7 linked regions of the Homo sapiens genome follow. The protein of the gene in region 2 purifies or fractionates together with the protein of the main gene of each other region. This does not show direct contact. Each region holds a gene or a part of one and is shown on either strand. Other genes may lie near its edges.

Region 1 (3,500 bases), on a different chromosome or scaffold from region 2:
TCAAATAAAATATGTTAAATACTTTCCAATTTTAAGGTACAGTAAATATGAAATATAATAGCTTGCTTGCTCATTAGATGACAAAATTAATCTCTGAAAGGAACTAAGTCACACATAAGGCTCACTTTCATGTTTCTTGAAGTATACAGCCTTTCACAGTTTGATTTAAACAAAACTAGCTAGTCAGACAAATATACATTGGCAAAGCATTGCTTTAACTGCTTTATTGTTATAATCAAATGTAGACAATGGTCCTCCTTGTCTAAACTTTGCTTTAGTTATATTACATAGCATTTAAACTGTTTGGATAATAATGTTGTTGGTTTGCCTATGAGTAATATTGGAAATTAATATGGCATAAGACAGAAACTAGAAAACATTTGAACTGTTCCCTTTTTTTTATTCAGTAGGAAAATGCAATTAAATATGTTACACAAGATAAAAGGAACTTGAATGATTTAATGAAAATGCAGTACAAGAATGCAAATGAGGCTGGACATGGTGGCTCATGCCTGTAATCCCAGCACTCTAAGAGGCCAAGGTGGGCAGACTGCTTAAGCTCAGGAGTTTGAGACCAGCCTGGGCAACATGGCAAAGCCCCGACTCTATCAAAAATACAAAAAATTAGCTGGGCGTGGTGGTGCATGCCTGTAGTCCCGGCTACTCGAAAGGCTGAGATGGGAAGATTGCTTGAGCCTGGGAGACAGAGGTTGCAGTGAGCTGAGATTGTGCTCCTGCACTCCAGCCTGGGCAACAAAGCAAGATCCTGTTTCAAGAAAAAATAAAAGAAAAAAGAAAAAAATTGTTCAATATCTCAGATAGAGGCTGTATGGTGTGGCAGTAAAAGTACTGGGCTAGGAACTGAAAGAGGTTCTACATCTGCATTCTAGATCTGGCTCTTAGGTCTCATTTGCTATGCAATTTCAAGGAACTCAGACTATTCTTTCACTATTTATTGCATACCTATCGAATGAAGGTACCATGATGAAACTCTAACCATAAGAAACCCATTCTGGTGAAAGAGGGACACATGTAAATAATTTAAAAATAATGTAAAATGTACTAAGGTATAGATTATGCATAGGGGTTGTGTGAGAACTCATAAAAAGCCATCAGAAAAGGTAGGAGAGAGGATGCGGGTGTATGAGTTACACCATTTCCCTTTCATTTCATAAATTAAATGACTACATTCTAGATGCTGTAAACTGCTTCAAAATTATATAAACACTCATCATAGTTCTACAATAACTCTTCTATCTAGGGAAATATGTCACCTGTTGCTAGAATTTTGCTCTCTTTATATGTTCCCTCCAAATCATTTCTCATATTTACTTTTGAGATTCAGGCTTCCATCTTACCATGCTGTATTTCATAATGTCCTAAGCCTACAAAAGCAGGTTGTATACAAAAGCCTAGGGCCATTGTGTAAAGGAAAAGAGGTAGGGTGGACCCTTCTCAACCCTTTCCTTCTCTGCAGGGCTTTGCATTCCTAAGGATGGGCCCCTCCTCTGCTTGGGGATGTTACCTAAATCATAAAATGATATTACTCAAAGCAATGGAACTTCAAAAGCATTTCCTTCCCAGGCCCTACTATAAGATTTCTTTTGGCATAAACTGTTCATTGTAATGTATTAAGTATCAGACTTTTGATGACTTGTTATACTTAAGTCACAAAACTACAGAAAACTTTTAAGTTTTTAAAATGGATTTAAGAGCTGCATGTGGGAGTACAGGCATCAGGAACCCCCTACCCCTTCCCTCCCTTTTCCCCAGTCAGGCCTGCCCTGTCCACTTTAAAATGCAGTTATTTGGGTGATGCCCTGTTACTAACTTAACTGACAACTGCTAGTTGAAATCAACTTGTCACTGTAAACACTTTGCTTTCTTTATTTCTTTTTTTTTTTTTTTGAGATGGAGTCTCACTCTGTCGCCCAGGTTGGCGCACAGTGGCGTGACCTCAGCTCACTGCAACCTCCGCCTCTCCGGAGCTCAAGCAATTCTCGTGCCTCCGTCTCCTGAGTAGCTGGGACTACAGGTGCCCGCCACCATGCCTGACTAATTTTTGTATTTTCAGCAGACACGGGGTTTCACCATGTTGGCCAGGCTGGTCTCGAACTCCTGACCTCAGGTGATCTGCCTGAGCTGGGATTACAGGCGGGAGCCACCACACCTGGCCGAACACTTTGCTTTTCTAGTGATTATTATATCATCTTTCTCTCTTGTAGCACTTCTGGTGGGAAAGGTGCAAAAAGGAATTAACAGTAGAGATGAGTCTCTGATTCCTAAGTCCTTCTCTACCAAGACTTCCAAGTTGGACAAAAGAGGTAGAGAAAGACTTAGGAATCAAAGACTCTTATGAGTATGGTATCTACTTTCAAAACAGTCATTTCATTTTATTCACATTTAGTATGGAAACTTTATTTTTCTCAATTCAAAATTGAGATTATAATCCAAAGGAAAGCTGAATTGAAAATTTTAACAGATTAATACCAGTGCCCCAAGTGGTGTTTACCATGCCTTCACAACAACCTCATGTTCTAGGGGCCATTAGAAAATGAAGTGGCTACTGACATGGAATGGAGCTAGGGAAATGTAACTTTTTACTTCATACACTCCTAAGCCATTTGAACTTTTTTACATCAATCATGCCATTTAGAATAAAAAATTCCACTTCCTACCAATCTAAGTACAAACTTGTCACCTTGACCTTCAAGGTATTTGACAAATATGGTCCTGGATTCCTTTTCAATTTTAATCCATTACTTTCTTCTGTGAACTGTTGCCTTATACTCTTAGCAAACTATCCCACAGAACTCTCTTATCCAATTTAACTGACATCACACCATTAGGCTATTCTCCAATGTGATGGGAACAACACTTCTGGTTCCCCCTCTGTGAAGTGTGCTTATCAATGGTGACAGTGTGTTTATTCACAAACCTATTTATGCCAGTTGTGCTTATTACTGAAAGTACGTAAATACTATGTAAAGCAATGAAGTATAAATGAGAAGAGAAAAATGACAGCAGCAATTAACACTGAGTACTTACTACCTGCCAGGCACTGTTCTAAATGCTTTACATGAATTAACTCCTATAATATTCACAAGAAACCTAGAAATGGATACTACCATTATGCCTGTTTTACAAAGGCAAAAACTGAGTAACTTGTCTATGGCCTATACAACTAATAAGTGGCAAAGCAATTTGGCTCCAGAGCTCAAGTACTTAACTACTGTACTACATAGACTCTCTAGTAGTTATTTCTAAAACACCACACTGAATGCTTTCGAAAGACCAGATAAAAGTGAGCACACAAGGCCGGGTGCGTTGGCCCACGCCTCTAATCCTAGCACTTTGGGAGGCCAAGGCGGGTGGATCACCTGAGGTCGGGAGTTCCAGACCAGCCTGACCAACATGGAGAAACCCCGTCTCTACTAAAAATACAAAATTAGCCGGGCATGGTGGCACATGCCTGTAATCCCAGCTACTCGGGAGGGTGA
Region 2 (3,500 bases):
AAGCACCAAGAAAAAAAGTGCAAAGACACAGTGGTATGTCTCTTAGTTCAATTTTTGTTTCCTGGAATTAGCAAATTAAAGGGCTAAATGACAACAACAAAAAATTCAAAGGTGTATATTCCCAGGACCTATATAAATAGTAAATAGAATTAAAATGGCTAATATCAGAAGCAATAATTCTTGAAAGAATTATGGACAGGCAGTACATTTTGGGCAATCTTAAACATAAAACTACGGACTGGCAAAATAATTAGGAGGTTGAATGTTTTTAAATTAAAAGTTCAGGACAGCATTCCTTGAAATCACAGGAACCCATATCCACTAAGAACATGACTCAGTTTGCCAAAAATTATTTCATATATACTTTTCATTGGGATATTTTGCAATGCAGATTGCATTTATGTAATTTATATATAGACATTTTTCAATGAATTGAAGAGAAAAGATAGCAAAAGGAGAAGGAGAAGAGAAAGCCAAAAGGAGAAGTCAGCTGAAATACCAGACTTGCTCCCGCCAGCTATGCCCACAGGAAGGTGAGTGGGCCCTTTTGACCAGACAAATGAACAAAAAGACAGCATATAAATAACCAGGTTCATTAGGTCAGCGGTAGCTACAGTCTAAGTTTGTATGTTGGAAAGAATTCAGCAAATAGATATAATAGATTCAGCATGAGCAGTACCTGAAATGTACCTTAAATACTTTCCCATCTTAAAACTCATCATTATTGGTACATTTCATGCTCTAAATGATAAATTCTGCCTGTCCTACTTCCCTTTTAGGCTTTAGGGAAATAAATATTTTATTGGATGTTCATATAATGGTTTCAGACAGAAAATGGTAGGAGTTACTACTGTAAGCAGTTGCTACTGTAAGCAGATATCTGTAACTACTACCCAAAAAACATTATCGAATGTTCAATGTTCCATATTCCAGCTGGACCCAAGAATACAGTATCCTAAGCAAAATGAACCAGAGTGTACTTACCAAGCATCATACTCAAAGAGAATATATCAGTTTTATTTAGACTTTTTGTATCACTGAACACTCCAAGGAATACATAGAGAATTGACTTTCAAATATTCGGATTCCTATGCAGTTTTTCCATAGGGCAAACTCTTAACATTCTCTCCATATTCTCAAAGCCTCAATGAGCTACACACCTTACCTACAGGACGAGACCTCGAACAACATGGATTCTAAGGAAAATGTCCAATTATTGAGTAAAAAATAATTGAGGAACTGAGTAATAAGATTCCAGACAAGTAAAAAGGAAGTCAGTCTGCATCTTGGCCTGTGACCCTCTCTTGACAAAATTCACAGACCACTAACTATGATAAGGCCTCAAGCAGAAAGAGTGAGGACAGCCTATTTTAATTTGAAGGGTAAGGTAAAGGTACCAGCGCTTAGATCTGGTTTGATGGCCTCTGACAGAAGAGATTTAAAAGTCTGGATATCCAGTAACGTCACTTAGTGTCTGACCCCATGTTCAGATCTGTAATCCTTAACAGGCTAATTCCAAACAGGCCCCTGACAAGACCTCTAATTCTATTTAAATATACAAATCTATACCATCATTCCACAGCTTACCACCTTTTTAATTAAAAAGAGGAAAATAAAACCAAACAATAAATATGAAATGAGTTCACTGTCTGGTTATAAACACATGTGGAATATTTTATATTCTCATCTTTTGTCAGCTATTATCCTGTTAATGTATAACACAATAAATAGTGGAAGAAACTTTCTTAATAAAAGCATCACTACTTAGCCTGTCATTCTCTAGTAACTTCCTCAGCTTAACAGAATCATTGTGTGGGAGGCAGTGAGGGAAGATATCCTGTGTGAACTCAGTGAAGAAAGACCTCTCAGAATGGAGTACTCTACAGAGATAATTACAGCTTTGGGAAAATGTGCTCAGAATAAAGCCAAAGGGCTGGAATTCATCAGATTAAGAGAAAGTGGAAAGCAACTTAGTGATACACAACCTTATGTATTATGGCGATTCAATTTTATTTGCTTTTTTCCCATCTCCAAAACAAATACCAAACAAGATTTTAAGTGAGAAAAGGTAGAAAAGGTAAGATGAAGACATAGGTAAGCTAGCACACAAATGTAGGCCAGAAGGTTTATATGCTTGTTGGAGGTGGGCCACAAATCTTGCACTGAGATTTCAAGAAACCAAAAGTTAAATGGTAAAACTCCTAGGTACTATTTATAATGTCCAGAAGACACAAACAAGTTCAAAAGAACTATGTCTGTTATTGAAACATAAGGTCTCTCACCCTGTCTCTGTCTCTTTCTCTTTCTCATTTTCTCATGGCATAATATCTTGGGGAGCAGACACCGTGAAATGTATTGCAGAATATCCTCATCTGCTTCCCTGTAACAGCTCCCACAGCAAGATTTTTTATTATTTTACTTTTTGAGACAGGGTCACACTCTGTTGGCCAGGCTGGAATGCAGTGGTGTAATCACAGCTCATTGCAGCCCTGACCTCCTGGGTTCAAGTGATCCTCCCACCTCAGCCTACCAAGTAGCTGGGACTACAGGTGTGCACCACCATGAACAGCTAATTAAAAACAAAACAAAACAAAACAAAAAAACTGTAGAGATGAGGTCTCTTCCCTATGTTGCCCAGGCTGGTCTCCAAATCGTGGACTCAAGCAATCCCCCTGTCTCGGCCTCCCAAAGTGTTGGGATTACAGGTGTGAGCCACTGAACCTCACCTCAAAACAAGTTTTATGAGAATTTTTTTTTTTTTGAGATGAAGTCTTGCTCTGTCGCCCAGCTGGAGTGCAGTGGCGCAATCTCAACCTCCACCTCCCGGGTCAAGCGATTCTCCTGCCTCAGCCTCCTGAGTAGCTGGGACTACAGGTGCATGCCACCATGCCTGGCTAATTTTTTTTATTTTTAGGGAAGACGGGGTTTCACCATGTTGGCCAGGATGGTCTTGATCTCCTGACCTCTTGATCTACCCACCTCCACCTCCCAAAAAAGTGCTGGGATCACAGGTGTGAGCCACCACGCCCAGCCGAGACAATATTTTTACAGCCTCCTTCATTATAGTTTAGTGACATGAGGCCTAAAACAGTTTAATTCAAAAAGAATCCCACAAAGAACCAAAATTATTTAATAGTCTTCATCTTCAGTGAAATGAAACACCACCACCACCATATATGTATGCATATGTACATATATATGTATATCATATTTTAAGATATTAAATTAAAAGCATAAGTAAACATCCCAGCACTTTGGGAGGCTGAGGTGGGTTGATCACGAGGTCAGGAGATCGAGACCATCCTGGCTAACACAGTGAAACCCCGTCTCTACTAAAAAATACAAAAAATTAGCTGGGCGTGGTGGCGGGTGCCTGTAGTCCCAGCTACTTGGGAAGCTGAGGCAGGAGAATGGCGTGAACCTGGGAGGCGGTGCTTGCAGTGAGCTGAGATCGCGCCACTGCACTCCAGACTGGGAGAAACAGCGAGACTCTGTCTCAA
Region 3 (3,034 bases), on a different chromosome or scaffold from region 2:
TTTGGGAGGTCGAGGTGGGTGGATCACAAGGTCAGGAGGTCACGACCATCCTGGCTAACATGGTGAAACTCCGTCTCTACTAAAAATACAAAAAAAATTAGCTGGGCGTGGTGGTGGGTGCCTGTAGTCCCAGCTACTTGGGAAGCTGAGGCAAGAGAATGGCGTGAACCCGGGAGGTGGAGCTTGCAGTGAGCCGAGATCGCGCCACTGCACTCCAGCCTGGGTGACAGAGCAAGACTCCATCTCAAAAAAAAAAAAAAAAAAAAAAAAAAAAAAAAATGCCCGTTCATTACAAAGTGAGAAGAAACTATGTTAACATTGTTCTTACAAGAGGAGAACCAGGGCTCTGCAATTTGAAAGGACTTCAACTGTTTTTGACAGAGCCTTACTCCTTGGGTCCTCTGGAGCCCAAGATGATAGCATAAAAGATAACTTCATGACTTCCAGTCTAGGCTCGCTGAACAAGGTGGCCTGGGAAGAATAACTAGCAGTACAAGTCGTGTGGGATAATCTATTTTAATGAAACTCATTATATATATATTTACAAAAAGAATAAAGGAAAAAGACAAAAACAAAAATAGATATTACAGCTTAATAAAAAGTACAACTGAGCACTGTGGGCTGGAGGTGGGATACCCACCCGCAGCACGCCCACCCTAATGTGCCATCTGAGGGCCTGGAGAAAGGACAGTGGGAAGGAGACAGTAGGCTCAGCCCAGAGATGCCCCTGTCCTCAGGGGCTCAATGTAGTTTGACCCTGACATTAAACCTTTTATGTCCTTCCCAGTCAGGAAGGTGGCTGGGTACAGGGGTGGGGGTGAGGAGCAGAGAGAGGTACAGGGCAGGAAGGAAAAAGTAGAAGGGTCCTGAAGGGCAAATTAGGGTGGGTAACTAGGGAGTTAAACAGGAGCAAGAAGCTTCTATTTGTAATCCCAAAATCTGGCATGAGTAGAGAAGGAAGAGGAAATGGGGAAGGGGTGATGGGAAAGGGGAGCGGAGGAAGGGAGGCAATTTATTTATTTCTCCCTGTCTCTTTTGGATAGTTCCACTCTTTTATGTTAATCCCAATCTGAGACAGGCCCAGGGAGGTTCCAGTGACAAATTAGTGGTTGTGTCCCAGTGGGACAGATGCTCTAGGAAGTGAACTGCTGAGCTGGCAAGAAAAGCTGGGGTCCTCCTCAGTATGACACAGCTCCTGGCTCCCGGGGAGCAATGAAAAGGACATCAGCTTTGGCATTGATGCAGTAGGTGACGATGAGGGAGAAGATGAGGATGCCGAAGCCCACTGTCAGGGTGATCAACTGCAGGGGGAGGGAGGGCAGGAAAGGACAAAGGCATTCTCAGAACTCAGTGCAGTTTTTTGGATAACTGTTTGGGGTTTGGAGCCATGGGAATTCGGATGCTGGCTCTAAGCACCAACTATGGAATAATCATGGGCAACATCTCTCCAGCCTACAGACTTTGTCTCCCCATTTGAAAAGAGAAGTAAAGCATCTCTGTTCTTGCTTCCATCTTGTATTACTTAGATTTTAGGCATTTTGAAAGGAGGGCCCATGGCTTTGGTTCCCTTGCGGCACTTACATTACTGACTTGTGACAGGAGCTCGGTACATTAGACTGACTCATCCCAGCTGTGCCAGATGGGGAATGCCAGCCGGGAGTTGAAGCTGTGAAAGAGTTCTGGGATCCACAGGGGCTCTCCAGAATGAACACCTACTCAAACTATCTGTGAAGAAAGGCCTCCTGGCCGGGTGCAGTGGCTCACGCCTATAATCCCAGCACTTTGGGAGGCCAAGAAAGGTGGATCACCTGAGGTCAGGAGTTTAAGACTAGCCTGACCAACATGGTGAAACCCATCTCTACTAAAAATAAAAAAAAATTAGCTGGGTGTGGTGACACATGCCTGTAATCCCAGCTACTCGAAAGGCTGAGGCAGGAGAACTGCTTAAACCCAAGGGACGGAGGTTGCAGTAAGCTGAGATTGTGCCATTGCACTCCAGCTTGAGCAACAAGAATGAAACTCCATCTCAAAAAAAAGGCCTCCTAAGGGAACATGCTGGCTGACCAGGGACAGATTTGCAGTAGGCTTTTGCTACAAATGTGGGGCAAATGGGAGATGGAAAGGGCTATATGACACAAGAAAGCAGAGAAAGAAGTCAAACAGATCCCTGCCACCTATGCCCCTGCCCCATCTCACCTCAAGCTCTTTGCTGGCGATGAGAAATATCCGGGCACGGATATCTTTCCAGCGGCTCTCAGTCCATGTAGAGTATTCAGTAGAGCTCCACTGACTCAGTTCAAAGGCAGGAGACAAGGCCCTGGCTAATCGTGCAGTAGAACGCACACACCGGGGGAGTCGGTCCGTCTCATTAGAATGCAAAGGGCCCTGGACCCATGAGTACTCATACAGCTGCACAGAAGATGCGCCACAACACACGGCTAGGGTGATCCTCTTCTCACTCGTTCCCTCTACCCTCTATCAGTGCCATGCTCTAACCAATTGAGCTAACTGGCTGCTGTCCCTTTACCCTTCAGATGGTCCATTTTCACCCAGGCTTTTCAACACCCAATTGCTGAGGACTGCATCTCTCCACCTCTCCATCCCAATCCCCTGGGTCTAACTAGGTCTAGAAGAACCTCCAACTTTCCCAAGGGAAAGGGGCCCCAGGGCACTTCCAACACCCACCACCACTCACATCCTTGTTTTCACTTGGGACTTTACTTGGATCCTGGCACTGCTCTCGGGTGAGGTTGACCACTGTGCCAGTCAAATTTGCCAAGGCATACTGTACAACATAAGTGGTGTTGGTGGGGCTGGAGACAGCGATGTAATGTTGAAGAGGCCCGTCACCTGAGTGCAGACCAAAGGGAAGGGAAGATTTGGTGGGTGGATGGTGGGTGAAATAGGAAAAGCCCAAGATTGGCAGCAGCCAGAAAGAAGGGCAATGGAAAAGGATCCATCAAATATGAGAAGAAAGAAAGGAAAACAGGGGGTAAGAAAAACAGAGAGGAAAAAGAAAAAAAATAATAAAGGT
Region 4 (3,267 bases), on a different chromosome or scaffold from region 2:
GCCATGCTGCCCCGTGGCCTTTGGTTACCAGGAGGCTGTCTGGGCAGGACAAGAGGAGCACCTATCTCAGGTCCACAGTCCGCCAACAAGCCCAGCTAATTTTTTGTCATTTTTGTAGAGATGGGGTTTCACCATGTTGCCCAGGCTGGTCTCGAACTCCTGGGCTCAAGTGATCCTCCTGCCTCAGCCTCCCAAAGTGCTGGGATTACAGGCCTGAGCCACCGCAACCGGCTTTGGGTCCACAGTCTTCACAGTTCCCAAGGCATGTTCACCTTGGTTTAGCCTTACTGTGGCCTTGTGGGTTCAGGGTTACCATCCTCATTTTACAGATAGGGACAGTAAGGCTGGCAGAGAGGCCTGTCCTGCCCCAGGTGACAATTTCTCTAGGATCCTGAGCCTTGCCCTGGTCCTACACGCCCTTGGGGACCTCCTCAGGAGGAGGAGCCAGGGGCAGTGGTGCAGAAAGACTACCCAGGTGTATGATGTCACGGACAGGCAGGGAGGTTTTGGGGGCATTTATTTCCGATAGAGACTGGCACAAGCTTTGGGCTAAGGACACCCGCCCCCACCCTCATCTAGAAACAATCTCTCTCGCCAGACTTGATGGCTCACGCCTGTAATCCCAGCATTTTGGGAGGCCGAGTCGGGCGGATCACAAGGTCAAGAGATGGAGGCCATCCTGGCCAACATGGTGAAACCCCATCTCTACTAAAAATACAAAAATGAGCTGGGCATGGTGGCGTGTGCCTGTAGTCCCAGCTACTCAGGAGGCTGAAGCAGGAAAATCGCTTGAACCCGTGAGGCAGAGGTTGCAGTGAGCCAAGATCGCGCCAGCCTGGCGACAGAGTGAGACTCCGTCTCAAAAAAAAAAAAAAAAAAATAGTAAAGAAAAGAAACAATCTCTCTCAGGGTCCAGAAGCTTCAGGGCGTGTCCCAGCTCAGGCTCTGCAGCCTGGGCCAGGGAGGAGGTGGAGGGACACGTGGGCCCCTCTGGAACCCCTCAGGAAGCCCCCTCGGCAGGAGTGCTGAACGCGAGGTGCGTGGTGTATCTTCTCACACTCCCTGCCTCCTCTGGGCCTGATAGGGAAGTGCTCCTGCAGCTGTTGAAGCTTGGGAGGGGAGGAGAGAGGGAGAGATGATGGATGCTGAAGAAAGGCTCTGGCCGAGATCCCACAGCCATTGGCTAGCATGCTCTGACCCATCGCATAGGGGAAACTGAGACTCCACTGGCTGGGCAGAATTAACCAAAGGGACTGAGGCGATTCCTTCAAACCTCACAAATCTAGCTCATTGCTCCTGCTCCCCATCACTCTCCCCCTCCACCCTCCACACCTCAGGACCCCGCTCAAACATTATCTGCCTGTCTCCCCTGATCAAAACCCACTCCCGGCTCCCATAGGCTGCAGGATACAGCCCAGTTCCTCAGCTAGGCACCTGGGGCCCCTGGCCTGGCCTGGCTGCATGCACCCCTCCTGCCCCTCCTGCCCCCACACCTCCCCACCCCCTTTTTAGTCACTCCCTCTCCCCCTCCTCCCCAAATCCCAACAGGGCTAGGTCTCCCCTTTTCTCTAGGAAGCCTTGTGGACACTCTCTGTGCCCCAGGCTCAGGCACCTGAGCTCTGTATGAAATCCTGACACCCCCCCCTTTTTTTTTTTAAATGGAGTCTCACTCTGTCACCCAGGTTGGAGTGCAGTGATGCAATCTCAGCTCACTGCAACCTCCACCTCCCAGGTTCAAGCCATTCTCCTTCCTCAGCCTCCTGAGTAGCTGGGATTACAAGCACGTGCCACCACACCCGGCTAATTTTTTGTATTTTTAGTAGAGCTGGGGTTTCACTATGTTGGCCAGGCCGGTCTTGAACTCCTGACCTCAGGTGATCTGCGGGCCTCAGCCTCCCAAAGTGCTGGGATTACAGGCGTGAGCCACCGCACCCGGCCTGTATGGCGTCTTGAGGCAATGCTCAGAGCTTGGTGTGAAAGCAATTCACCTCCTCCTTGGGCGCCTCCCCGACTGGGGTGTCCGCAGGCGGCACCCACTTGCAATCCCAGATGCTGCCACCAGGGGGTGCACAGTGCCCGCTTGGAAGGTGGGCAGGGGCGGGCGGGGAGGAACTAGAGAGGGAGGGGTTAATGCCCAAGGGCCCCGCCCCTCCCAAGAGGCATGGGCGGTCTCAGCCCGGTCCACTCACCAGGTGTATATGAGCACAGCCAGGAGGACCGTGAGGAGGACGGCCAGGAGGATAGACAGGATGGCGATGATGACCACGGTGCCCGGGCTCTGGGGGCCGGGGACAGCCCGAAGTGCCTGGGCTGAGGGCAGTGATGGGGGCCGCACAGGCGGGCAGGAAAAGAAATTTTACCTGACCGGAAGGGGCCCTTGGGCAGAATCCAGACCAATCACCGCCCTGCCTCCCCTACTACCACCCAGGCCTGGGGGAAGGGGGTGGCTGGGGGAGGGGCGCCTGCAGATTGCAAGATGGTTGGCTGCCTCTGACTCAGTGGTGAGCTGACCTGTTCCCCCAGCCCATCCTCAGTCCTCAGGACCCCCAGGCCCCAGCCCCCTGCCCCTACTGTTTGACCGGAGCCTCTGGCCCCTACCTTGCTGCAGGCGAGTGTCGCTGGACCACTTGGTTTCAGCCACGGGTCCTTCGTCATTCATCACCAGGAACTTCACCCTGAATGGGAGACCCAGCATTGGACATGGGGGTCCCCCGGAGTCCTGAAACCATCAGACTTGGTGCCTGCAAGTCTGTCCCCTGGAGTCCCAGGCCCTGGCGAGAGCAGCCCGGGGAGGGGGCCGGAGGCTGGGGCGAAAGAGCCCAACAGAATGGGTTCAAATCTAGGTGTGACATTTCCAGTGGTGTGACGTCCCTCCCCCTCTCTGGGCTTCTGTGTCCTCATTTGGGAAAGGTAGAGGGCGAGTATTAGATGTCTCAGAACTGAACATGCGTGAATCAAGCATTTAGTGAGGGGAGACCCTGTCTGGATGGAGAGACGCCACCTGAGTGGTCCACACAGCCTGTGGGGACTGGGGCTTGAGGTGGGGAACCTTCTGCTCAAGAAAAGCAGGATAGGCCAGGCATGGTGGCTCACGTCTGTAATCCCAGCACTTTGGGAGGCCAAGGTGGGCCTTCAAGATCACTTGAAGCCAGGAGTTGAGACCCGCCTGGCCAACATGGTGAAACCTCATCTCTACTAAAATTACAAAAATTAGCCAGGCATGGTGGCAGGTACCTGGCCAACATGGCGAAACCCTGTCTCTACTAA
Region 5 (2,390 bases), on a different chromosome or scaffold from region 2:
TACATATCCATGTTGTTATGTATGCATTTATTCCATTGCTTCTACCCGCTATACCTCATCGTGTACCTCTACCACATGTCATCTTCCCCCTTTTCCAAGGACAGCCACTTGGGTGGCTTCCAACTTGCCCAACAACTATTCTACAGTTATTTTATGTATGTTACTTTGGCTCCAGCTCAATTGTGAACTGCTTGTAGATAAGGACCATGTTTTTCTTTACCTGTTACTCCTGCTGATTTCCTATTAGTGCCTGTGCATGTTTTCTGCTGTAAGGTGTTAAATGTTAAAGTAAAATTAATAATAGTAGAAGTAAGGAGTTGCCAGTGGAATCTTCCTGAGCTGAATCTAATCATGGCTTTACCCCTTACTAGCTTTGTGACCTTGACCTTGGAAAAGTAAAACCTTGTTGGTCTTTCTTCATCTATCAAGGTAGGTAATACCATCTATCTTAGTGGGCTGTTATGAGGAATGAGTTAATTAACTAATACTAAGCACTCCAGTACAGTAGAAGACATACAACAGGTGTTTAATGAATAATAGGTGCAATGAATCCTACCTGCTGCTTCAAATTACAGCCATCTGTACCTGTCAACTTTTCTAAGAGTATAAGCATCTTGGAGGTAAGGTCATTTCAAATACTTCTTTATATCTGGTCATTACCCAGCACTCTGCTTTGTGTGAAATATTCTATACATTTATGTTGCTATGGTTTGGATGTTTTTGTCCCCTCCAAAATTCATGTCGAAACTTAATCCCCAAAGCAACAGTATTAAAGGATGTGGCCTTTAAGAGGTGACTGAGTAATGAATGAGATTAAATGCTCTTTTGAAAGCATTTTGCTCCTCTTTCCCTTCTGTCCCTTCCACCATGTGAGGACATACATTCCTCCACTGTGGAGGATGCAGCAATGAGGTGCCATCTTGGAAGCAGAGATCAGCCTTCACCAGACACTAATTCTGCTGGTGCATTGGTCTTGGAATTCCCAGCCTCAAGAGCCAGGAAAAACAGATTTCTGTTGTTTATAAATTACCAAATCTGTGGTATTTTGTTATAGCAGCACAAATGGACTAAGACAAATCTGTTAACTTAGATTTTAAGCATATGTGCTAAAGTATTTTAAAAGGTTATTTTATCCAAGAATATAGTATGAGTTAATACCTTTTTTGCAAGATTCATGGCAATCTTTTATTATTTATTTTTTATTTCATTCCATGTTGGAAGCAAAGTCATATCTATTAAAAAGTAAAATCACAAATTAGTCTTTGATTATTCAGAAGCATAAGAAGATTGCTGTTTTCATGTTTTCCATTTCTCCCTCCAGTGGCTTGAAAAGTACAGGTGCTCTTTTCAGTCATGTTTTGTCTTAAAGATTTTAAAATAAGAAGAGTCTGCATCCTGTAAAAGAGGGACAGAAACATGGATCAGTACCTACTCCTATTTACTCCAGTTTTTAACATTTAAGTCCTTCTGTTTTGAGGAGCTGTATCATTATGATTCACTATTAAGAATCTTTACAAAAGTTCAGAAACTGCTTAAATTAGAATTTAAAAATCATAGCCAAAATTCTAGATGTACACAAAAGTACTTCTAATGAGTTTAGCATCATCTCTGGTTTAGAGGAGGTATAAATAGCATTGGACTGCAATGCTAAATTCTCTATAATGACTTTTCTGGATCAGCATATCATACCTACACTGACTTGCCCTAATAAATAAAAACAATGAGTCAGATTATGTAGAATTGAGATATATGGAAGATAACTCTTTAAAATTATTTGTGGCCAGGCAGGCACTGTGGCTCATGCCTGTAATCCCAGCACTTTGGGAGGCCGAGGTGGGCAGATCACCTGAGGTCAGGAGTTAGAGACCAGCCTGGCAAAACCCCATCTCTACTAAAAATACAAAAATTAGCTGGGTGTGGTGGTGTGCACCTGTAATCCCAGCTACCCGGGAGGCTGAGGCAAGAGAATTGCTTGAATCCAGGAGGCGGAGGTTGCAGTGAGCTGAGACTGCGCCATTGCACTCCAGCCTGGCCAACAAGAGGGAAACTCTGTCTCAAAAAAAATAAAAAGAAAAAAAAATTATTTGTGAACTTTTTGTATATTGCTTAAGGAATAAAACAAGGCAACCTGATAATCCCCAAGATGTGATGTTTCTTTTCAGAAGATATGCATTTACCACTTTCAAAACTTTGCACTAAGAAAGACAAAATAATAATAATGATAATACAAAATTCAGTGTAGCCACTGTTCTTGATCCCTAAAAATAATAAAGATTCATAAAAACAAAGTTCCAGACATACAGACTAAAGAAGCAAATTCTAGTTAACAAGTACTATTAGCTTGAAATAAGCTATGCTAGCATTTTCTTAACTTAGACGCTTATCAATAA
Region 6 (3,500 bases), on a different chromosome or scaffold from region 2:
CAGGAAGGGAAGTGGCAGGGAGCTGCTGTCCCTCAGCACTTTGGGATCGTGGCCCCATCAACTGTGATAACTCTGGTGCAAATTTAGGTCAACTTGCCAAGAGCAAAAGCCCCTTCCTGGGTACAAGAGCTCCCAGGGGTAGCAGGGAAGCGCTTCCCAGAGATGGAGGAGGAGGGTCGCAGGAGATGACCCCTGCGTGTCTGAGTGAACCCCATGCTCTGCAATGTTAAAGACAATTTGCCTGGTCAGCTCAGCAGCCCCCACAAACCCCTCTACCCTCCTGCCCCACCCGGTCCTCTACCTGTTTCTCTCCAGCCCCAGGCTAAGAATCACTACCTCGAGCTCACGCAGGGCCTGTTCCCAGGCCCTGCAACTCTTCCGCACGCAGCTCTGGGTGCTGCTTCCTGGGTGGGAGGGCAGAGTCCAGTGGGGCGGGCCTCCAGATAAGCCTGAGGAATGTGCTGGGCCGGCTGGAGGTAGCCACTGTGGGAGCAGACGCCTTGCCCTGGCCCTGGGGTTGGGAACGCTGGCCAGTCCGTGAGGGTGGGGCCCGGGCCCCAACAGGCCACTGGGTCTGGCCAAGCCAAGCAGGCCCTCCATGTCCTGAGCATGGGCAGGAGTTAATTATAGGAGTACCAGTCAGGGCCCTGGGGCAACAAGACATGCAGGAGACAATGTGGGATACCAAGGGGAGGTAGATATGGAGCAGGAAGTGGGAGTACCAGCAGAGCCACCCCAAATCAGGCAGATCTACAGACAACAAAGACTCAGACTCAGGGGGAGGCTCAGTGTTGACCCAGTCTAACCCCTTCATTTTATAGATGGAGAAAGAAAAGTTGCCCAGAGAGGGTAAGCTACATGACTAAGGTCACACAGCAGGCCTGGGGCAGAGCCAGGGATGAAGGAGAAGGTCCAGGGTGGTGATGGAGACCAGTCTGTGGGGGGAACATCCTGCTGCCGTCTCTGGCTGCCTGCCACCACCTAAGCCTTCCCTGCCATCCATCCTCGGGGGCAGGGTTATGCCAGCAATGTGGCCCCTGTGTCTTCAGGATCAGCGGGTGGGAACGGAGCAGCATTTCTGGGGTCAGCTGGGTATCTGTGCTGCCAGAACGGGGCCCTGGGACAGGCATGCTGCTGGTTGTGCCAGCAGCTTGGCATTAATTAATGTCCTGGAGGCCTGTCTGTTGAGTGCCTAACAAGGAACAGATGGGACTACCCCAGTGGGCACACGCACAGATGGGACTACCCCAGTGGGCACACGCAAACAAGGGAGGGGCAGAGACGGTAATGCGCCCCTATCCCACTTGCACCCTGATAGCCCCTCAATTCCACTCCTGCCCATTCACTGCCTCTATCCCAGCTCCCTGGGGTCCAAGAACCTCCCACAGTTAGGCAGTCTACATTCCTCCTATAAGGTCTGGTCTGGGGTCCCCTCACTGGCAACTGATCCCCAACAGCTCTGCTACACCTGGGCTCTGGCAGCCAGAGATGGGTCAATTTTCTCAGCTCTGTCTTCACCGCCTGCCTCTGGGGCTGCCTTCTCCTCAGAGCAAGGACCAGCTCAGGAGTTCCTCTCCAAGATGATTAGCAGGCTGACCACTGGCTGTGGGTCTACAGTGTGGAAGCCCCCAGTCAGAACACGCCTACAGGAAGCCACTGGACCCCCAGGTTCATCCAACATAGCTCAGACATAGCACAGCCCGGAGTGTGAATCCAGCTGGCTGTGTGGTCCTGGGCAAGCCGCTTAAGACCCTGTGCCTTAATTTCCCCATTGGAAAAAAATGAGAATAAATCTACCTACTTTAAATGAGGAAATGAATTCATGAGGCACCTGCTTGCCCACTTGGGACACAGAGCTTCTACCCTTTTTCTTTTTCTTTTTCTTTTTTGAGACGGAGTCTCCCTCTGTCGCCCAGGCTGGAGTGCAGCGGCGCGATCTCGGCTCACTGCAACCTCTGCCTCCTGGGTTCACGCCATTCTCCTGCCTCGGCTTCCCGAGTAGCTGGAACTACAGGCTCCCACCACCATGCTCGGCTAATTTTCGGTATTTTTAGTAGAGACGGGGTTTCACCGTGTTAGCCAGGATGGTCTCGATCTCCTGACCTCATGATCCGCCCGCCTCGGCCTCCCAAAGTGCTGGGATTACAGGCGTGAGCCACTGCGCCCGGCCTTCTTTTTCTTCTTTTGAGACAGTGTCCTGCTCTGTCACCCAGGCTGGAGTGCAGGGGTGCCATCACGGCTTACGGCAGCCTCAACCACCCAGGCTCAAGTGATCCACCCACCTCAGCCTCCTGAATAGCTGGGACCGCAGGTACATACCACCATGCCCAGCTAATTTTTAAAAACTTGTTTGTAGAGATGGGGCTTTTGTTTTTTTTTTTTTTTTTTTTTGAGACGGAGTCTCACTCTATTGCCCAGGCTGGAGTGCAGTGGCCCAATCTCGGCTCATTGCAAGCTCCGCCTCCCGGGTTCACGCCATTCTCCTTCCTCAGCCTCCCGAGTAGCTGGGACTACAGGAGCCCACCACCATACCCGGCTAATTGTTTCATATTTTTAGTAAAGACGGGGTTTCACCGTGTTAGCCAGGATGGTCTCGATCTCCTGACCTTGTGATCCACCCGCCTCGGCCTTCCAACGTTCTGGGATTACAGGCGTGAGCCACTGCGCCCGGCCCCTAGAGATGGGTTTTCACCATGTTGCCCAGGCTGGTCTTGAACTCCTGGGGTCAAGTGATCCACAAGGCTCGGCCTCCCTGAGTGCTGAGATTACAGGTGTGAGCAACTGCGCCTGGCCAGAGCTTCTGCCTTGAAAACTCCAAGGGCTGTGTGTATGTATATATATATAGTTTTCTTCAAGAGTTGCTGCCCAGACAGGGCGGTGAAACCACCAGAAGCCAGCCTGCTCCTTCCCAGTGTTGCCCCACCAGGGACTGTGGCCCCAAGCTCGCAGGAGTGCTCCTGCTGCGTCTGTCCATAGGCCCCACCCCGTCCCATACCCCAGGTCCCCAGCGGGAAGAGTGACCTTCACGGGGAAGGCTGGGTGCCAAAGTCCTGCCAGCTCACTCCGGCCCTGAGTCACAGGGACCCCTGGCCACACTTAGTCCCTAATGATGTTTGCAAGAGCAAGACCTAACCTAGGACCCAAAATGGTGGGCAAAGAGGGGTTCGGAAGGGGAGGGAAAGGTCAGGGCCAATAGGTGGACCCACAAATTTGACAGGCAGTGGGGTCAAGTGGTGAGGGGGGGGCCCAGAACCAACCCACCATCCTCCAGAAGGAATGCACTGTGTTAAGCAAGCGAGGCGGCCCCCAAGCTGAGCCTGTGAAGGCCCAATAGGACAGCAAGAAGTGGAGAGCAGACCAGGCACAGTGGCTCACACCTGTAATCCCAACACTTTGGGAGGCCAAAGTGGGAGGATCACTTGGGGCCAGGAGTTCAAGACCAGATCCGGCAACATAGAGAGACCCCGTCTCTACAAAAAATGAAAAAATAAGCTGGGCAT
Region 7 (3,500 bases), on a different chromosome or scaffold from region 2:
CTGGGGGTGGGGATTAAGGGTAGGGAGAGAAATAGGAAGTTGTTTAATGGGTATAGACTTCCAGCTTTACATGAAGAAGTTCTGAAGATCTGCTACACAACAACGTGAATACACTTAACACCACTGAACTGTACATATAAAAATGGTTAAGTATTTTGTTATGTGTTTTTTTCACCAAGTTTCTAGAAAATAAATAAATGAAAATAAATAAAAACGTAGGTTTCATACTCTATCATGACTGACCATCTAAAAGATCCTCTTAAACATCAAACCTCTGCCCTAAAACGGCAGAGTTGTATGCAACAAAATCAATCAGGCAAATGGCAAAGGCTTTCTAGAAACCCTCCATCTGTGGTTTTAAAAGTAATCACATGGGAATTAAAAAACAACAACAACAAAACAGATTTGGAACTACAGATGAGAACTAATGACCACCTAATTCCAAAATGCCCTAATAAGAACAAAGCACCTTTGAACTTCTTCTGGAGCCCTTGGACCTCTAATGGAAGTCTGCGAGAGATTTCTGCCTGCCGAGGCAAATGCCACTACCAGCCCTTGCATTATCTCCAGCTCCTGTTAGTCCAGGGCCAGCTTCTGAGAATATTCCACAAGTCTAGACTAACTCATCACACCAATCTGGAGCTAAGCAGTATCTACAGAAGGCAATATTGCTTAACCTTAGCAATACAACCAGGTATCTAAGTCATCAAGAACAAAGAGACAGTAGCTTCGAATACCAAATATTCATTTCCCTGTATTATCCACTCACTGGTTTCCTTTTAAGAACCTTCATGATCCAGAATGGCCTGTGATTACTTAAACTGTTAACAAGTCAACAGAAAGTGATATGAAAGCTTGTGGCTGATTGAAAAAAAAAAAAAGTACATTTTACTTGAATACTAATACATGGGTTTTGCATGAACTGTCAAGTCTGTTCTTTTTGCAGTTGGTACAATATAACAAAATCTAATTCCTGAAGTGCTCATTTGGGGTTACATAGTTTGGCTCAAGGGACAGATGTCTTAGGGCGGAATCCTGGCTCCACTATTTACCAGCCCTATCACGCTGGGTATATTACTTAACCTCTCTAAGCCTCAGTTTCATGATCTCTAGATTAGGGTTTTATGAGAATCTGAAAATCTTAAAATCAAAAAGTTATAAAAGTGATGGTTTAGATAAGTGTATACAACTCCTTTTAGTTACAAGGAAAAGCAACATGTGGGGAAGAAAAAACTGGTGTTACTCAATGTCCTACTATAGCAGACTTCCTCATGACATCTGCACCAGAACTGAATTTTACCTGTACTTCTGACTCTCAGGTTCTCAGGTATAAAAAGTCCTATGCACTTTTTTCATATGCTTTGTAAATAGTTTTGTACTGTGTTTTGCACCTACGTCACAAATACAGCTTAAAACAAAAATTTGTGCATGAAACTATAGTACACTGGCAAAAAATTTTAAAAGTCCTAATAAAGGCTGTCAAACGTTACTCTGCCATTTAATTGCCAATTGATAGAACATGTGACTATGAAATTTAAATTGTCATAGGTTGAAACACTCTTGAAAATTTATTCGAATTTATATTTACTAGATACATAAACTATAGCTTCTCATTTATAATAAATTAAATGCCTTCCAAAAACCCACTTCACAATGAAATTATATTACAATGAAAGTTTAGGCAAACTTTCAATCAAAACTGAATGCCTGCTATTTATGTACTACAGATGTTGACAAAGGTTCTGCCCTACAGAAATTCCAGCCTAGGTGAAGAATGACACCCCTGAAATCATTTAAGTAGCTAACAAGGCAGTACACAATTAGGTGTCAAAATGAATGATGAATGATTAACAAAGACCACAAATTCAGAGGGAGCATGCAGGACTGAACAGAAATGGCGAAAGGCGGTAGGAGAGAGGCTGCTGCAGTGCCCCATGGTGAAGGCAGTGGGAGAGTGATCAAAAGAGGATGTAACAGGCACTGATGCCACTTGGTGAAGGGTCAAAACTGAATCCAGTGGGGCAGGCAGAATAATCATAGCATTAATAAAAAACTGAAAACTGGAGGTGGCGCAAGATAATTCTGCCCTGGACACATGCAGTGTGCACCAGCAGCTAGACACACACAGGGAGGAAGACAACCAACAGGCAATTGGAGAGCAGCAACTGTCAGCTAGGGCACAACCAGAACCGAGAAGTACAGAGTCACCGAAACAATGCCAGATGCTGCTTACAAGAGACCGTAGGGGAAAATTCAGCTGTAGGAAAAGGGCCTCTTGGTCTGGCAAGGCCAATCAGAGCGCTTGAGTCACATATAGGCAAGAGAGAGAACACCTAAAATATCAAGCACCTAGCAAAGATTTTATTTTCCTCCAAGAGTAATTTGGCTTATTGCTACTCTGGATAGTAACAATTAGATGAGTTTACATCTACTCCCAAAGCAATCTTGTTGGCAGATGTCTATGAGGGTCCACTGTAAGAATTAGAAGGAGGAGGAAAATGGTCATTAGCAAGAGGAAAAAAGGACACACTTTTTCCAACTACAAAACTCCAATGCTCCATCAGGCAACAGCCTTTAGTAAAAGCAGGCTACAAACGTTCATTAGTGAAGCACTTATTAAATAACATTCTATTTACAAGGCCCTAAATTAAAAGGTACCCACTCTACCCCATACAAAGGGTTAACACATCTCACTCTTAAGAAAATCACTTTCAAAAACATTTTAACATTATCGAGTAATAAGTAGGTTAAAAATAGTTTGGTTAAGAAAAAGTAAATAACACTCCTAGTCAATTTGGCTACCCTTAGAAAACTATTAGATTCTTATCTGTTTTCTTGTGGTCTTTAGTCCTATGCACTTTTCTCATATGCTTTGTAAATACTTTTGTACTGTGTTTTGCACCTATGTCACAAATACAGCTTAAAACAAAAATTTGTGCATGAAACTATAGTACACTGGCAAAAAATTTTTAAAGTCCTAATAAAGGCTGTCAAACGTTACCCTGCCATTTAATTGCCAATTAATAAAACATGTGACAATGAAATTTAAATTGTCATAAATTGAAACATTCTTGAAAACTTATTCGAATTTATATTTACTAGATACATAAACTATAGCTTCTCATTTATAATAAATGCCTTCCAAAAACCCACTTCACAATGAAATTATATTACATGATATATAATGCTTTTTTAAAAAAGGTCTTATTTGCCAGTCATAATGGGCTGCTTTATAATTCAAAAGACTACTAAAAGTATACATTTAATATATACACATACACATGTATTTTCACTATATATTTTAAAAATATATTTTCACAACTCACACACATTTTTGCTATTCTCAGTATCTAGATGTTAGCCTCAAGACAAAATCTTGCCACCAATCTAGAACTAGTTATTTGTAGTGATTATAACAACTTCTATCTCTGGAAACTCTTTCAAAGTCCTTACAAACTTTACATCACAGCCAAAACCATCTCAAAGGTACCTTTCCTCTG

What was found.
Region 1: the proteins of PLXDC2 (region 2) and SLC31A1 purify together in Homo sapiens (co-immunoprecipitation; 3 studies listed by BioGRID and IntAct, with this or other methods). This does not show direct contact.
Region 3: the proteins of PLXDC2 (region 2) and NCSTN purify together in Homo sapiens (co-immunoprecipitation; one study listed by IntAct). This does not show direct contact.
Region 4: the proteins of PLXDC2 (region 2) and UPK3BL1 purify together in Homo sapiens (affinity purification with mass spectrometry; 2 studies listed by BioGRID and IntAct, with this or other methods). This does not show direct contact.
Region 5: the proteins of PLXDC2 (region 2) and DHRS7 purify together in Homo sapiens (affinity purification with mass spectrometry; 2 studies listed by BioGRID and IntAct, with this or other methods). This does not show direct contact.
Region 6: the proteins of PLXDC2 (region 2) and DOK4 purify together in Homo sapiens (co-immunoprecipitation; one large-scale study listed by IntAct). This does not show direct contact.
Region 7: the proteins of PLXDC2 (region 2) and TMEM131 purify together in Homo sapiens (affinity purification with mass spectrometry; 2 studies listed by BioGRID and IntAct, with this or other methods). This does not show direct contact.

Annotation. Positions count from the first base shown.
Region 1 is NC_000009.12:113,224,544-113,228,043, reverse strand, and holds part of SLC31A1 (high affinity copper uptake protein 1), read right to left. Parts: intron 1-3,500.
Region 2 is NC_000010.11:19,822,932-19,826,431, reverse strand, and holds part of PLXDC2 (plexin domain-containing protein 2 isoform 1 precursor), read right to left. Parts: intron 1-3,500. UniProt on the Homo sapiens protein: May play a role in tumor angiogenesis.
Region 3 is NC_000001.11:160,356,416-160,359,449, reverse strand, and holds the end of NCSTN (nicastrin isoform 1 precursor), read right to left. Parts: intron 2,851-3,034; coding exon 2,696-2,850; intron 2,410-2,695; coding exon 2,197-2,409; intron 1,302-2,196; coding exon 1,179-1,301; 3' UTR 501-1,178; downstream 1-500. UniProt on the Homo sapiens protein: Essential subunit of the gamma-secretase complex, an endoprotease complex that catalyzes the intramembrane cleavage of integral membrane proteins such as Notch receptors and APP (amyloid-beta precursor protein).
Region 4 is NC_000007.14:102,636,525-102,639,791, forward strand, and holds the end of UPK3BL1 (uroplakin-3b-like protein 1 precursor), read right to left. Parts: intron 2,676-3,267; coding exon 2,599-2,675; intron 2,311-2,598; coding exon 2,190-2,310; intron 1,110-2,189; coding exon 1,001-1,109; 3' UTR 501-1,000; downstream 1-500.
Region 5 is NC_000014.9:60,143,619-60,146,008, forward strand, and holds the end of DHRS7 (dehydrogenase/reductase SDR family member 7 isoform 1 precursor), read right to left. Parts: exon of another isoform or gene 1,396-2,390; coding exon 1,348-1,395; 3' UTR 501-1,347; downstream 1-500. UniProt on the Homo sapiens protein: NADPH-dependent oxidoreductase which catalyzes the reduction of a variety of compounds bearing carbonyl groups including steroids, retinoids and xenobiotics.
Region 6 is NC_000016.10:57,479,994-57,483,493, forward strand, and holds part of DOK4 (docking protein 4), read right to left. Parts: intron 397-3,500; exon of another isoform or gene 302-396; intron 1-301. UniProt on the Homo sapiens protein: DOK proteins are enzymatically inert adaptor or scaffolding proteins. They provide a docking platform for the assembly of multimolecular signaling complexes.
Region 7 is NC_000002.12:97,989,449-97,992,948, forward strand, and holds part of TMEM131 (transmembrane protein 131 precursor), read right to left. Parts: intron 1-3,500.